2 separate regions of the Homo sapiens genome follow, and region 1 is linked to region 2. Evidence: fine-mapped expression QTL. A gene starts in region 2. The other region holds a variant in brackets. All regions are shown on one strand. Distances are between the middles of the regions. Region 1 overlaps TMEM169 (transmembrane protein 169). Region 2 holds the start of XRCC5 (X-ray repair cross complementing 5).

Region 1 (2,916 bases), 22 kb after region 2:
ACATTTATGGAATTTACCGATTGTGTAATTTGGTAGGTTCTGTGTTGATTATACAGTACATGCATTATCTCACTGAATTACACATTCAAAAAATATTTACGTATTCATTTATTTTTAGAGATGGGGTCTTTCTATGTTGCCCAGGCTTGACTTGAACTCCTAGGCTCAAGCAATCCTCTCACCTCAGCCTCCTGAGTAGCTGGGACTACAGTCATGTGCAACTGTGCCCAGCTTCAGTAAATATTTATTAAGCAACACTATGTGCTATATATTGCATAGTTGTTCTAGGTACAACAATTTTTGTCTGTTTGTTTGTTTGTTTTGAGACGGAGTCTCGCTCTGTCGCCCAAGCTGGAGTGTAGTGGCGTGATCTCAGCCCACTGCAAGCTCCGCCTCCCGGGTTCACGCCATTCTCCTGCCTCAGCCTCTTGAGTAGCTGGGACTACAGGCGCCCACCACCACGCCCGGCTAATTTTTTGTATTTCTTTTTTAGTAGAGACGGGGTTTCACCGTGTTAGCCAGGATGGTCTCGATCTCCTGACCTTGTGATCTGCCCGCCTCGGTCTCCCAAAGTGCTGGGATTACAGGCGTGAGCCACTGCACCCGGCCTGTTTGTTTTTTTTTTTTTTGAGACAGAGTCTCGCTTGGTCACCCAGGCTGGAGTGCAGTTGTGCAATGTCAGCTCACTGCAACCTCAGCCTCCAGGTTCAAGCGATTTTCGTGCCTCTGCCTCCTGAGTAGCTGGGACCACAGGCATACACCACCATGTGCAATTAATTTTTGTACTTTTAGTACAGACAGGGTTTCACCATGTTGGCCAGGCTAGTCTCCAACTCCTGACCTCAAGTGATCCATCTGCCTCGGCCTCCCAAAGTGCTGGGATTACAGGTGTGAGCCACCATACCAGCCTAGGTACAACAATTTTATGAAGCAAGTATTATTTTGCAGAAGAGGACACTTGGACTGAATAATAGTAACAACAGAAACTTATTGGATGTTTATTGTGTGCCAAGTGCTGCTCTAAGTACTTTACAATAATCGTATTGTTCAATATTCACAGCAAACCAGTGAAGTAGGTACCTTTATTATTCCCATTTAGAGGAGAAATTTGCTCAAGCTTACATAGCTAGTATAGTGGTGGGACTGGAACTGACACCCAGGTTTGCTAATTTCAAAGCCCATGTTATTTTCATTGTGCCATACTACCCGCCAACATTTATGCAAAGATCTATAAACTTCTAGAATGTTCTTTGATGAACCCATTTCCTATATTAAGGACATATTTCCATATACCTAATAATAATTAGTCTCTAAGTCCTGCTAGTCATTCCTATGAAATCTTTTTGTTAATTTGTTCATTTGAATTTCTACTACCACCATATGCCAGAATACAGCCTTCATACTACTTCCTCTAAACTGGAAGACATTCTAAAATGGAAGACATTCCTCTACCATTTTTTACCATATTAATGGTGATTAATAAACAAAACAAAACAATATTTTTATTTTGTCTTGCCATTACTGACTAAAATATATCTGAAGGCCTGTCTGGTGTTTGAGGCTCTCCGTATTTGCACCCCACCCTAGGATTCAGTAGCAATTTTCCCC[T/CT]TCCCTTTCCTGCAACGTGACTACTCAACACATGTGCTTATGTTGGTTTCTTCATCTTTGTCACGCTTCTCCACATCTTTCAAGCCTGGCTCAAGACAGACTCATTCGCTCACGTCCCCTTCTGTGACTACCCCAGCCCCCACGTCCTCTCCTCCCACCCTAACCCTGTGTTGCAGGTGTGTGGTGAGAATTCAATGAATGGCCCAGTATAAAATGCCTAATATGTGACTGACACTTCATAAATATTAGTTTCTATTCCCTTTCTTTTGCCTCCTTCTATTTGTAATTTAATAGCATTTGCCATCTGAACCATACACTTAATACTTAATTATGCAGCATTTCATATCATTGTATAGATTATAGATGGCATCATGAGTTTTCATTCATCTTTCTAGGTAGATAACAAACTTCTAGAGTTTAGGAACTGTCTTACTCTTCTTCTTAACCACCAATGGGAAAACCCCAGGGCTGGACATGTAGTACAAAGTCAGTATGTACTTGTTGACTTCATAGGACACAGAAGAGAAAATGTCTTACCAGAAATATGACATAAACAACTGTTAAGAAAGAAAGGCTTGATTCTCTTCCCCATTTTTGTATACTTTATTATGCTGTAAGTATTTGATCTGAGAAGCAGGTTCTAAACATTTCTCCTTCCTTTTAGATTTCACAAGAGAGAGGTTAAAAGAAAATTTTACCCAATTTCCAAGGCTTTAATCAATAGACTTGAGAGAAGAGAGAGGACTTTGTTCTTTTCTCTGGCAGTTAAGCTGTGCCCATCTTCCACTTCCACTTCCAGTCTAAAGATTATTAACAGGCTGGTCACGGTGGCTCATGCCTGTAATTCCAGCACTTAGGGAGGCCGAGGCAGGTGGATCACTTGAGATCAGGAGTTTGAGACCAACTTGGCCAACATGGTGAAACCCCCTCTACTAAAAATACAAAAATTAGCCAGGCATGGTGGCACACACCTGTAATCTCAGCTACTCCGGAGGCTGAGGTAGGAGAATCGCTTGAACCCGGGAGGCAGAGGTTGCAGTGAGCCAAGATCACACCACCGCACTCCAGCCGGGGCAACAGAGTGAGACTCTGCCTCAGAAAAAAAAAAAGATTCTTACAAATGTGATATTACAGAGTGTTAGCTTCAATCAACCATTAGCTCTGTACTCTTGGTCATTGTAGGAGGGAAAACAGGTTTTTAAGAACATGCTCATACTCTGGAACTCGTGCTTAGAATAACTGCTTTTAAGCCACTCTTGAAAAAAATTATCCAGATAATTCTTTTTTTGTTTTTGTTTTTTTTTTTTG
Region 2 (2,910 bases):
AAACAGCTCCTCCACTAGAGCTACAAAGTTTTCAGCAGCTGAAAGAGGACGAAAAAAGGAGGTGAGTGGCATTATTAAAAGTTCATGATCGTTTTAATCAACATTTCTCAATGAGGAGTTGAGGGAACTAGGGATCAGTTGCTCAAACTCGTATCTTGTTTATCTGTATTGAATAAATTCATTAATCCCTGGAACCACATCTCCCTCTAGTGACCCTTCAGAGACAACTACCACTCTTTTATGTTGAAAAAAAAAAATCACTTTAAAATTCATTGTAATTTCTGTTACTGATCTGGGACACCAATGGTCATAGATTTCTAGCAACACAGGGGTTCTCCAGGGCCCTGAAACCAGACAGCTTGGATTCAAATCCGGATTTCACCAGGAAAAGCCCACAGTTCTTTATTCCTCGGTTTTCCCACTTGCAAAATGGGGATAAATAGTTTTCACTTCAAGGGGTTGTGAAGATTAAATGAGATAAGAATAAAAGGTTTAGATCCGTCCCTCACAGAGTGGGCTTTCAATAAATGCGGGATACTACGTTATTATAAAGCTAATAATACGACGCTTTACAGTTTAAGTTATTTTAGTCACAGATAGTCCCTCTCTTAAGTTTTACAACAAGCCCTGTGGGATAGTTGCTTTATCACAGCTAATTTTCATTCTCATAGAGATCTTAAGAACCCAGGCTCGGAAGTAATAGAGGAAGTGGGGCTAGGGAGTGGAATGGGATAAAGAGAGAGAGAGGGGAGGCGGGTGGGGAGGCAGGTGAGACAAAGAGCAGGTAGAGAGGGAGAAGAGGGATGGGATGGGTGGGTAATGGAAGAGGTGGAGTCAGCGAGGCTCAAATTCAGGTCTTGGAGCCCCAAATCTCCAGCTTTTCTCATAGCGCATCCCTCGGTCCCGGCCCTCCTGACTGAGCCCACCACCATGATCTTCTCTTGCCCCATTCTTTGTCTTGACCGCGATCCCACGATTCCTGCTTCCGAACCACCCTCTCCGGATCCCCAGTCCGGGTAAAGCCCAAGTCCATGGCTTTCTTTATACCTTATTCCCCGACCGCACCATGTTGCCGGTCCTCAGGCGCTTTGGTCGCTTCTTCCGGGCGGGAACCTGCCGTGTCGCAACTCGCTTCCGGTGGACAAGCGGCAGATAGCGGAAAGAGCCGCTTCGTTTCCTGCTAGGCCTGAAAGGGGCGGGGAAACCGTGCCCCGGAACTCTGAGCATGCGCAGATTCCCGCCGAGCTTGCGCAGATTCCCGCCGAGCTCGCGCAGATTCCGGCCGAGCATGCGCAGATTCTCTCCGAGCATGCGCAGATTCCCGCCGAGCATGCGCAGATTCCCGCCGAGCATGCGCACATTCTCTCCATTCCGCCGTAGTCGGGAGCGTGTGGTGTTTGAGCCGCCTGAAACGCTAGTACGACAGATTTACTTAAAGATTCACTTAATCACTTAAAGATTCACGTCCCTTTTCTCTCATTGAGAATAACACCTAAGGCATTTTGTGTCAGAGCTCTGGAGTTAGATTTCTTTTCTTTTTTTTACTTTTTTAAAAAATCTTTTTTCCTTTAATTTCATTTTTTCATTTATTTTTTATAACTTTTGATTTTTTTTTTTCTCATCACTTGTGGGTTTTTTTCTACTTTTTATTTTTGGTTATTGTGGAGTTAGATTTTCTTGAGTATGAGTATGAATGCAGAAAGTCACTTAACTTCTCTAAAAGACTCAGTTTCTTCTAAAAAGTGATAATGAAACACTTCACCGATGTGATAACCTTAGAGCCAACTGGGGAAGAAGAGTAGGACGTCCCCAGGAGCACAAAAGTAGAAGGGAGATTCTACTCTGCAGAGAAAATGGGATGCACAAACGCCTGGAGGCATGAGACTTTATCTGCTAAGGCTCTCCCAGTAGTTAGCAGTGGCTCCAGCTTGGAAGGGAGGAGTCAAGGTTTAATTTAGAAGACAAGTCTAGGGAGATATAGAAATAGCAGCTGTCATCACAGTGCTTTACTTGATCACGAGCCCTTTGTCCAGCCCGCATCCCCTACCCCTTTGAGGGAGGCAGGCCCAAGCAGTACCTTGCATAGAAATGACTGCTTTCTATACCATATGACCCCCAGCTGACAGGTGGCTGGACGAAGGGTCTGGCAACCTGCAAAGTGTCTGCAAACCTCTGCCCAAACTGAGAAAATCAAGTCCAATCAATATTCTCTCCTGCTTGAAAATTGTTTCTGGGAAAAGCAAGAATTGAAGCTGAAAAGATGTGGAGAATCTATGAGCCAAAATTATAAATACATTGAAGCCTCTAGAATGTAGAGTCAGACATATTCAGAGGTGCTCATAGAGCCCAGGAGGTTCTTCCAGCTTTTGATTCAAACTCAAGGAGTTACTTAAAAGCTGAAATATTATTTTTAATAATACTTTAAAGGAACAGCAGCGCCCTGGCCGCTCAGCTTTGCGCGGGCTGCAGCAGGCAGGCAGGCAGGCACGGACACTCGCCCTTCCCTGCGGGTAAGATTTCCAAGAGAAAGATCAGCTCGGCAGAAGGGGCGGGGAAGATCTGTGAGGTTGTCAGCTAAATCTCCTCCAGCAAAGGTGGAAACGAAGCCCAGCGGAGGCAGCAGGACAGCATAAATTTTCAGACAAAGAAGCAAACAAGGAAAAATGGGAGCAAAGGGCAAACAGGCCAAGTGGCTATCCGGGAAACAAAAGATTTATCTGTGGAAAGCGGAGAAACTGAAACAAGGAGAGTCCAGCCTCTGGTGAAGCAGGACAGAAAGAAGCCAAATCTGATTAGTATCACATACCATATCTTGTCAGTGGTCCTTGTCTCCCTTCTTGTACGATCCAGAGCTAGAGAGAGAGAGAAAAGGAAAGAAACAGACAGGGTGTCGCTCGGCCGAGGCTGGAG

Evidence for each region. PIP is the estimated chance that this variant, and not a neighbour inherited with it, causes the effect.
Region 1: its variant is the best candidate, but not a certain one, in a credible set for the expression of XRCC5 in hippocampus (GTEx, PIP 0.56).

What each region holds. Positions count from the first base shown.
Region 1 is chr2:216,085,871-216,088,786 of GRCh38, reverse strand. All of the region lies in intron 1 of TMEM169 (transmembrane protein 169), which reads right to left. Among named protein-coding and RNA genes, the nearest start is that of TMEM169, 5.4 kb to the right of the region's middle. The variant T/CT (reference allele first, on the strand shown) is at 1,609.
Region 2 is chr2:216,107,595-216,110,504 of GRCh38, reverse strand. XRCC5 (X-ray repair cross complementing 5) reads right to left here and starts at 1,157. Exons shown (of 21, transcript NM_021141.4): 1 at 1,048-1,157. The coding sequence starts at 1,068. RefSeq lists an enhancer at 812-1,433.